Regions from separate parts of the Homo sapiens genome. Here region 1 is linked to region 2. The links come from fine-mapping of genetic effects on gene expression. A gene starts in region 2. The other region holds a variant in brackets. All regions are shown on one strand. Distances are from middle to middle.

Region 1 (5,386 bases), 640 kb after region 2:
TAAAAGAAATTTAGTTCCTGGACAACACACCACTAATTAATTTCCAGGAAATGTTATATCTCATTACCTGATGGTCCCTCCATGTCTACATGTGATAAAGCAACCCTTTGAAACCATGCCACACTCAGGCATTAGGGGAAACAGAATATCAGCAGCTCTCTCTTTATGTCAAAAGATCTCTACACTATGTGACAAAGAGCTAAATGTATTTCTTTCCAATTCTGAATTATTTTAAGGATGTACAGAGATTCAGGAAATCAATAAAATAAATTCTTGTAACCCATCCAGACCAGAAATACCAACAATCTATAGGGAAGAAGGAATTGGCAGTGAAGACCAGCTTATAAAGCAATGGCTTTAGATATAAGCACTTGATCCAAAACTTTGCTTATTTTCCTGATATAGGCTGTCAGGAATCCAAATAGTGCTCACTATTACAAATCATTTAGAACTTCTAATTGAGAAGGTACCTGTGGCTTCTAGAGGCTGTGAAAATGACAACATCTGTTTGGAGTTGGAAGGAACATTGCACACTATCAAATTCAGACATCCCATTTTATAAAAAGCTCTAAAGCCCAGGTCTCCTAACTCCTGAACTACTACTGTGTTTCTACCATGGAAATGTCTGGAAAGAGGGGGAAGGAGAGTTCCTTAAATGTAACTGGTATTGGAACCCAGGTTAAGGAGCAGGGGATAACACAAATTGACTTCAGAAATTGGTCTGCATTCCTCTATGGGCAGTGCTCTAGATGTGGTTAAAACCCCTCTCTAATTCTGTACAACTTCACCTCTGGTGAAAGCCACTTAGTGACACCTTGTGCTGCCTTTTTATTTTACTATTTTATTTTCTGAGTACGGAAAGATAAACTTATCCATAAAAGCTAATTACAGAGGCAGGATTAAATAGTGGCTAGGAGTACAAAATCAGGTACACTAATTTTTTTTTTTTATGAATGACATCTAAAAGGAAGGGAAAAGTACAAATTCTCTCCCAGACTCTTACTTCCTTGTGTGTTGTTGAGCAAATTATTTAATCTCTCTGTGACTAAAGTTTCTCCTTAGTAGAATGAGAATAGCATTGTTAGCTCAAAAGATGAGTTTTATTGCAGAGAAATATTGTAAAGTACTTAGCATTTTTTCTAACAAAGTAAATATTCAATAGTCAGCAATTGTATTACAAATGGTCTTGGTGTTTGCCCTATTTTCAATGAACAGATGTTAGAGTTTGGGGAGAACACATATGTCATTTAATAGAATGCCCAGTGAAGATGTGAAAAGGGCTTCAACTACTGATTGTCTGGTGCTATCCACTACAACAGAGAAGAAAAAAGAAATCAAGATAAACAATATGAAGGCTGGGGCTGGGAGCGGTGGCTAACATCTGTAATCCCAGCTCTTTGGAAGACCAAGGTGGGCAGATCACTTGAAGTCAGGAGTTTGAGATCAGCCTGGCCAACATGGTGAAACCATGTCTCTACTAAAAATACAAAAATTAGCTGGGCATGGTGGCAAGTGCCTATAATCCCAGCTACTCGGGAGGCTGAGGCAGGAAAATTGCTTGAACCCGTGAGTAGAGGTTGCACTGAGCTGAGATCACGCCACTGCACTCCAGCCTGGGCAACAGAGCCAGACTCCTAGTCAAGGAAAAAAAAAAAAAAAGAAACCCCCTGAAGGGTACCCACCCTAAAGCTCACTCCTAGTCACCTCTAATGCCTCACAAGAAGGCATTGCTTGTTATGCAATGGTGGTCATTAAGGTGATGGGGGAGGGCTAAACTGGGACTGGAATGTGAAAAATGTACCTGAAGCAAGGACTCTTCTGCAGACTCTTTCAACAGGGCATGTGTTTGCCAGTTGGGTGTGGGGTGTGTCTTAGTTTGAGTTTTCCCAGAAGCACATGTGTACTTCAAAAACAGGGCAAACACTGGGATCATTTAAAATGCAACTGCTGGGTCCTGAACGTTTACTTTATTAGGCAAAACGTGAAGTACATTCTTTCTCTGACAAAATACGGCCATCTCTTGAGGTAAGCAGTGCTATGCCATTTTACTGATCAGAAACGTTAATCACAGAAGCAGACTCTAAAACAAGTATTACAGTGTAACTAGTT[T/G]AAGAAGTGCAGGCCAGAAAGAAAATGAGGAAATGACAAGGGGATTGAAGGCGTCCAGTAAAGAACATTTGGCCAGGCGCGGTGGCCCACAGCTGCAATGCACTTTGGGAGGCAGAGGCAGGCAGATTACTTGAGGCCAGGAGTTCAAGACCAGTCTGGCCAACATGGTGAATCCGTGTCTCTACTAAAAATACAAAAAATAGGTGGGCATGGTAGTGCATGTCTGTAGTCCCAGCTACTCGGTAGACTGAGGCCCAAGAATTGCTTGAACCTGGGAGGCAGAGGTTGCAGTGACCCGAGATTGTGCCACTGGACTCCAGCCTGGGGGACAGAGTGAGACTCTGTCTCAAAGGAAAAAAAAAAAAGAATTTTCTATTCAAGCAGTGAATATAGCAGGCAATCCTGCAGAGAAACTCTGACATGACATAAAGCACACCTCACAGAGTTATCCCACCAGAGAGGTGAGAGAAGTTGGTATTTATACAGCACCTCTTGAGAGTCATTAATTAAGAACTATTCCTAGAGGGTTTTCTTTCTCCTTATATGAAGCTCACTTGTGCATATAAGCAGTGCAATTTCCCACAGTTTTTGGAAAAAGTGCTGAGGAACAAACCTGCAGATACTAGGAGTTAGAAGCATTCCTCAGAAACACAATTAAAGGTCTGAGGCATATGGATAGGGCACTGACAGCACCAGCTGCAGGGAGTCACAATGCTTGCTTGTACTATTGCACTGTATGAGGAACAACTTCTAGCAAATTCCCTGACTCTACATGCCAGACTGTCTTCCAGATGTCATGTTGCCAATGACCGTGGCTTTTGGCAGCATCCACACCTGGGACAATTCGATCTGTAACTAAAAATTACAGTCATCAAGCAGAGTAATTATAAACATTTAATAGTCTGAAACCACAGGGAAATAAGTATGTGAGCTGATATATTTGTATATGTTTGCATGTATAGGGAAGGAAAAGAAAAATGGGTCCTGGAAACCACACACATTTGTATAAACATGATTATTCCTTGAAAGACATGGTAAACTCATTTAATACAAGAAGGCATTTGGTTTTCTACAGGTTTCCTTAACATATTCTTTGCTTCCTCATCATCTTCTGCATGACACTATGTTATGTTTGTTAGTGGAAGTAAGTTTTAAAAACTGGTTGAAAATTTCATTTTAGATTTATTTACACAATGCTATTTGACATTTAAATGCTTTATCTTTTAGTTGCAGACTTCACTATTCGCAATGTTACCTTATGTTATCCATATTACATTTCACTAAAATGCCAGCATTTTTTGAAACATTGGGCTAGAATGGACTTACGGGTATCAGTTTATTCTGTACCCTGCCTAGGAACAAATAAACGTTGAATATATCCTGAACACATGAGAATCTCCAGAGGTAGATCTCCCCACTCCCACCTCTTTATTTCTTGATAGAAGATTCCAAGTTCTTTATTAACTCTATTCCTAAAAACTATAAAGTCTTAATAAAGTTGAATGTTCTAAGATACAGAAAGCTACATTAGAGTGGAATGTTACCTATATTCATTCGAGCTTTTCATCCAATATAATTTTTGGTATGTAACTCATGTCAGGAAATTACCTGGTATATGATTGATTACTTGCAATAATTGGAATATAAACTATTACTCAAAGCCACTTATATTTTCTCTCATAAGGGGTATCCAATTTTTAGAAATTATTTTTAAACGTGAACCATATAGCCATTTAACTTCTACCAATTAATCTTACTCATGAACCCTGGAGCTAATTTTAAATAATTTGACTTTTCCCATAAGATTCTGAGGAAGGCCTTTATCTTTTTGGGCATCAGTGCCCTTGTCCTGGCATGAGATCCAAAGCTTTTTTCATCCTACGGGTTGTAGGATTCTTTCCTTTCCTGGGATTCTCTAAACACAATAAAAATACAAACATCTAAATACAAATATCATGAACTGTAAATTATTCCCTTCTTTCACAATGCAAGCCAACATGGATTTAAAATGTTACTGATTACTTTCATCAATTCAATGTCCCTGATATTGTTTTATGTATTATTTTTTCTTAATATAACACCTTTGTTCTTTTATATATCAGAAATGCTGAAATATTTCCTTTCCTATAAACCCTGGATGTGCTTTACAAAAGTGAAACCTTTTTACTGATTCTTTATTTCAGCTTTATCAGCAGTTATTAAATAAAGAAATGCAATCGCCAAATTACAGCCTTATGCTGACACTGGACCATGTTAAGTAGTGTATAACAGAATCAAAAGTAAACATTTGCTACTGGGGCAAATTCTATTGTATCTAATGATTGAGTATCTAATGATTAGATTGATCTAATTTTAGTACCTGGGCTGTGAGCAGTTTTACGTTTTGAACCCTATGTCTTAGTTAGCATTTGTAAATACTTTCTGTGTATTATTTTGAAGAGGTTGTTCTAATCTCACATTTTGCCTCTGTGGTGATTTTTTAACAGACTTTATTTTTTCTAGGCAGCTTTAGGTTCACAGCAAAATTGAGGGGAAGGTGCAGAGATTTTCCATATATGCCTGCCCTCCTATACACACAGCCTCTCTGAACTATCAATATACCTCACCAGCGGTATATTTATTATCATCAGTGAACCCACATTGACATATCATTATCACCCAGAGTCCGGAGTTTACATTAGGGTTTACTCTTATGTTTTACACTCTATGGTTTTGGAAAAATTTGTAATAACATGTATCTGTATCTATCATTATAGTATCATATAGATTAGTTTCACTGCCGTAAAAATCCTCTGTGCTCTATTAATCTCTCCATCACCCCAAATCCCTGGCAACCACGGATCTTTTTACTCTTCCCATAGTCATTCTACCTTTTCCAGAATGTCATATAGTTGGAATAATAAAGTATATAGCTTTTTTCCCAGATTGGCTTTTTCACTTAGTAATACACATTTAAGTTTCTTCTATGTCTTTTCATGGCTTGATAGCTCATTTCTTTTTAGTGCCAAATATTATTCCATTCTCTAGGTGTACCACAGTTTACTTAACCATTCATCTACTGAAGGACATCTTGGTTGCTTCCAAGTTTTGGCAATTGTGAATAAAGCTGCTAGAAACATCAGTGTGCAGGTCTTTATGTAAACATAAGTTTTCACCTCCTTCGGGTAAATCTCAAGGAGTGTGATTGCTGGATTGTATCATAAGAGGATGTTTAGTTTTGAAGGTTCTAATCTCATTTTATTAGCTAGTTTATTACAATCACTCCCCTAGAGGTCTC
Region 2 (5,386 bases):
GTTCAGCAAACGAAACAGAACTCAAAACAGCAAACTTCATGTCTCGCCCTCAGAGCCATTGACCTTCAGAGATCTGACAACACATTCGCAAGACCCTGAAATTTTGAATTACAAATTAATTACTTCAATGAGAGTAATGAAGACCTCCTGGTGTCAGGTTGCCAGATTTAGCAAATAAAAATAAGAGGCTCAGTTAAAGTTGAATTTCAAATAAATATCACATGGGGCATACTTATACTAAGGAAGCATAATTTTTTTTTTATCTGAAATCTAAGTTTAATAGCTCCTCTCCTATTTTATTGGGTAATCCTGATCTTGAAGGGTAGCCGGAGTTTAAAGAAACAGCTCTAAGACACCTGAAGTCAAGGACAACGAACACGCAAAAAACAACATTTGCAGTCAAGGAAAGAGAAGCAGAGAAGCTGAGCCACTTTAGAGCAGACTGAAGCTCATGACTGCCTTTCCTTCTTGTTGCTATATGGGAACCGTATCTATCTGTCTATTTATCTATCTACCTACCTTATTGTTTATGTATCATCTATTTACAGATAGAGACATCTAATGTTTTGGAGTAGGGCCCTAAACCCAAGCCACCAGCATTTCAATTCCTGGTCTCTCTGATCAACTGTGTGATCAGGGACAAATGTGAACCTGTCAACCTCAATCCTCTGTGTATAAAATAGGAATAATAAATGGTAACTAAATCGGTAGGTTGATTTGCACTGAGTCTGGCACATATTATAAGCATAATCACTGTTTACTATTATTATTATCATTGCATTTCTCTGTATTGTGACAAAATACTGTTACTGGTGCCTTGGCTTCCTCACACACATCTGAATGCCACATCATTCTTCTATGCCCAGAATAGTGCCTGGTACAGAGAGGGCTGCCAGTAGTCCCTTGCTGAATAACTAAAACCCTCTCCAGGCACCTATCCTATCCCATTCCTCCAGATGGCTGTGCCCTGGGCCTGGCCGGCACTCAGAACTTCTCCACCTCCAGCATCTGAACCTCAGACATCTCACCCTTCTACCTCACCATTTCCTCTGGCCTACCTACTTGTCCTAGAATGTTCTCTAGTTGAACTTCAGAGTCTAGTTCCTTACTCCATCCTGTCCTTTCTCTAAGTACTTATTTCTAGGTGTATGAAATGCACTAATGAGTCTATGTTCTAAATTCTAGTCCTTCTTTTTTTTTTTTTCTTTTGTTTGAGACAGAGTCTCACTCTCTTGCCCAGGCTAGAGTGCAGTAGGGCAATCTCAGCTCACTACAACCTCTGCCTCCCAGGTTCAAGCAATCCTCCTGCCTCAGCCTCCTGGGTAACTGGGACTACAAGCACGTGCCACCATGCCCAGCTAATTTTTGTATTTTTAGTAGGAATGGGGTTTCACCATGTTGGCCAGGCTGGTCTCGAACTCTTGACCTTGTGATCCCCCCACCTCAGTCTCCCAAAGTGCTGGGATTACAGGTGTGAGCCACCATGCCCAGCCCTGACTTTCTAATTGTCTATGTTACTTTGGGCTTCTTATATAACCTCTTTGCTTCCATTTCATAAATAAAAAAGGAATAAAAACCTATGTCCTCCCCTTATTAGTGTGAAAAGCACTTTGAAAACTAGAAAAACAAATTAAAGATATTACTATTTGTTAAAGTCCTAGGACATATATATTTCCTGGTATAGTTCGTGTTATTCCTAACAATAAGGATATGTGGCAAAAACCCAGTTTACAGAGAATGGGGATATCACATGTAATTGCATCTATATTTAAGTAGCTCAGCCTTCCAATTTCCAGACTTTCAGATCGATCATATGGTTGACCTTTTTTAAAAAAAGCTTTCTCTCTATGTGATCTATATCACTAGAGCTCTGCTAATCTACCATGGCCCATAACTGCTTGTGATAAAGGATAGAGGCCAATTTTGTTTAAACTGTGATCTCTGTTGAGTATTGTAGTTTGCAGGTGAGTTGCAGAGCTGGAACATTTAATCCGCATGGCCCATTTAGCACAAGGGGAAACGGGGCCTCTTTGCAGAATGGGCAGCCTGACTTGCATTTACTAATCACACTCTGGCAGGGGGCCTGAGGAAATCACAGGAAACGGGGCCAGATATTCTCCTCCCTCTAGGTCTGAGATGGAGGTGACACAGGCCTTGTGCCTGGGAGCACAATGAGGAACCACACCCAGATGCCAACGCTGAGGTGCCGTGTGTCTACTATAAGGCGGAAGACACCAACAAAAATGATTTAAATATAAGGTACGAAGGGATGACTGACATGAGTGGGTACAGACCCCATCCCCTGGAGGTCAGAGAAATGCAAGGTCAATTTCAGATGGGGAAGCTGAGGGAGGCTTTGTGCAAAACCTGGCATCTGAATGGGAACCCTACTGCCTAAGTTTGAATTAGTTGATTGTATGATTAAAATTATCGAACATTAAAATTTATATTAAGAAGTGATCATGTTTAAATAAAAGGTGATAATGGATGTGTCAGCTGAGTTCCACTCATTTTGGTGATAAGAAGCATCCACATCCTACATCTGTGGGTCTAGTAAAGTCCCTGGAGAAAAAGAACAATAACAGACGGTAAAATCATCACTGTTTGGAGAGCTTTACAAACTTTATCCTCCCTAATAAGTAGCCAATCATTACAATGCACCCCAGGCAGTCAAACTCCAGGATCCACGTCCTTAGTCTTTGTATTAGGCTGCCTTTGTAAGGCCTCAGTGTCTGGCATTTTGTAATGGAAAAATCTGGGGTATGTCCACAGATTGAATATAAGTCCTTGATTTTAAAGGCTTGCCTTTCAAAGCACTATGGTTGGCCACATAACGTTTTTAGCCAGAACATTTTGTAAATTGTAACAACAGGAAAATAACAGTCACTTCTTGATTATAAGTGTTAACGGAGGAGAACAGTAGCATCGATAATCCAATGTAGTGAACAAAAATCACCTGTTGGTTGATTACATTAGATTAAAAACTGCATGACATTTTTGTTGCTAATTATGTGCTATTTGTATACTTTTTATAACTCAACATTCTTTGCGCATATTTGTAGTGAGGCAAGGTGGTGGAAGAGACTGGGTAAAGGTTAATCAGGATTTAACATTGCCTCCTGGATATAAACAACCACAATTTTGATGGTGGGAATAACACAATCATTCTTTCTTAATATCAAAGTCTATGCACCTTCTACCTCACAGGCTGGAAGAATTCAGAGCTTACCTGAGAAATGAAGCTTATCATCCATGTCTTCTGTGCCCATGGAAAGGTGCTGCTTTGTATGTAGCATGTGTGGGCTCCATAGAAAGTAGGTACACTGAGAGAATCCAAATATCTGGCACAATAGAATTTCCTTTCATACAGTTAAATCACAAGTGGACTACACACACAAAAAGGAGGGCAAGAGTAAGCACTTTGAAAGGTTAAACAAGCAAAGCAAATTTTCCTAGTGGTCCTCCTTCAGAAAAAAATCTCAAGCAGCAATATAGTCATTCCACTCGAGTGTATTACTTGGGCTAAGGGCCTAAGAAAGTCCCCTTGGCTGGCTAAGCCTAGAAAATCTGTTACTTATACCAACCCAGCATTTCTTCTCTTACCTTTGGAAAACAGCATCTTAGTTTTCCTTTAACTATCCCTCCCCTGTGAGTACAAGGTACTCTGGCTGTGGAACTCAAATGGAACTGATCACTTTCCCAGGAATCTGAATATTGAGCATAATGGCGTCAAAATTGGAAACAAAGCTGATTCATCCCCACAATAGCACCCCAAAAAGACTTTCCAAAGTTCCCATTGTCTGGACCCACAGAGTGGCCTGGTTCTTATTCTCCTCAAGAGTTGGTCCTTCAGTGTTTCCTTGGCTCATATGATGTAACCTGTGTCATTCTAATTCCTTACTTTTTGTTTGCTCAAGTTACCCAGGGTCGTTTCTTTGCTTACAGCCAGTGGACCCTACCTGAGGCAACCATGAAAGCCAACAAATGAGACAAGTTTGGGTGGAGGTGCTCATGGGGCACTTTCTAAAACATCTTCAATTCAGTTAGACTCAACTAATCCAGGACCTCATTTACCCGATGATGAAGCCAATTGGTCAAAGACTTCTTCCAGGTACAAAGTTAGAAGCCAGGCCTTTTAACGCTTTTCAGCACATAACGAAAGTAATGACACAGTCTTCCCTGGTTGGTTTGCTGTGGCACACAGGCAGGCAACTGATGCAAAATGCTACTTCAAAGACCCCTTCATTCAATTAATCAGTGAGTATTTATTGCAAGGCACTGTGCTAGGCACTATGGAGAGTACATGGAAGATAAGACCAAAGTCCCTGCCCTCAAGGAGCTTACAATCTAGTTGGGAAGACAAGCCATACATACAAGAAAAAGTAAGTAACAATACAGGAGTTAAATTAAAATGCAAGATAACAGTACAAGAGATTTCCAAAAGTAGTATCTGATTAATTACTAAATGAGCAGCATTGATAGGGGATGCAACTACTTCCAAGCGAGAATGTCATAAAGGACTGAAGCATGGGAAGTCTTTGCAGACAAACTGGGGCTGGAGCTACCCTAGGACAGCAGGGATCTGAATGGGAGAGAAGGGTGGAGAAGGCATTTCAGGAAGGGGCAGCCATAAGACCAAAGGCACAGAGGTGAGACCAAAAGCAAGCAGTGTTCAGGGGTCAGGGAGGGCTTACTGTGGCTGGATACACAGTTAAATCGTTTTGGATTAAAAAGGGCCTTAAGGGCCGGGTGCGGTGGCTCAAGCCTGTAATCCCAGCACTGTGGGAGGCCGAGGCGGGCAGATCACCTGAGGTCAGGTGTTTGAGACCAGCCTGACTAACATGGTGAAATCTCGTCTCTACTAAAAATCCAAAAATTAGTCCGGTGTAGTGGTGGGCGCCTCGGGAGGCTGAGGCAGGAGAATTGCTTGAACCTGGGAGGCGGAGGTTGCAGTGAGCCGAGATCGCAACATTGCACTCCAGCCTGGGTGACAAGAGTGAGACTCCGTCTCAAAAAAAAAAGAGCCTTAAATGCTCAAGCTTAGAACTTACCCTTTTAGCAATGGGGGGTGAGGGAAACAACAGATATACTTACAGTAAATATACAAAAGACTTAGCTAATCAAGAGAAAATATTCAAGTCTCATCTTCAGGACATTTACTTGTGGATTAGGACCCTCTCTACTTCCAAAGAGGATTTGAAATGGTGCTTCAGGGTTGTCAATTCCAAAGGAAAAGCTCTGGGTCATCTAGATTTGGGTAGAGACTTTTGAGTCCCTCTATGATCCCAAATTATAACTAGCACAAAGGTAAGCTAACAAATTCCCTGACAGGCAGGCAGGAAAAATGCTCCCGAAAGACAAGTATCTTTACAAATGACAGAATATT

Evidence for each region. PIP is the estimated chance that this variant, and not a neighbour inherited with it, causes the effect. A credible set is the group of variants that fine-mapping cannot tell apart.
Region 1: its variant is the best candidate, but not a certain one, in a credible set for the expression of CNTN4-AS1 in thyroid (GTEx, PIP 0.51).

Annotation. Positions count from the first base shown.
Region 1 is chr3:2,417,525-2,422,910 of GRCh38, reverse strand. The region is part of intron 3 of CNTN4 (contactin 4); the gene reads right to left. Among named protein-coding and RNA genes, the nearest start is that of CNTN4-AS2, 280 kb to the right of the region's middle. RefSeq lists an enhancer at 3,911-4,080. The variant T/G (reference allele first, on the strand shown) is at 2,110.
Region 2 is chr3:3,057,940-3,063,325 of GRCh38, reverse strand. It overlaps CNTN4-AS1 (CNTN4 antisense RNA 1), which reads left to right and starts at 2,181. Exons shown (of 4, transcript NR_046554.1): 1 at 2,181-2,259. CNTN4 (contactin 4) reads right to left here. Exons shown (of 25, transcript NM_175607.3): 25 at 5,367-5,386.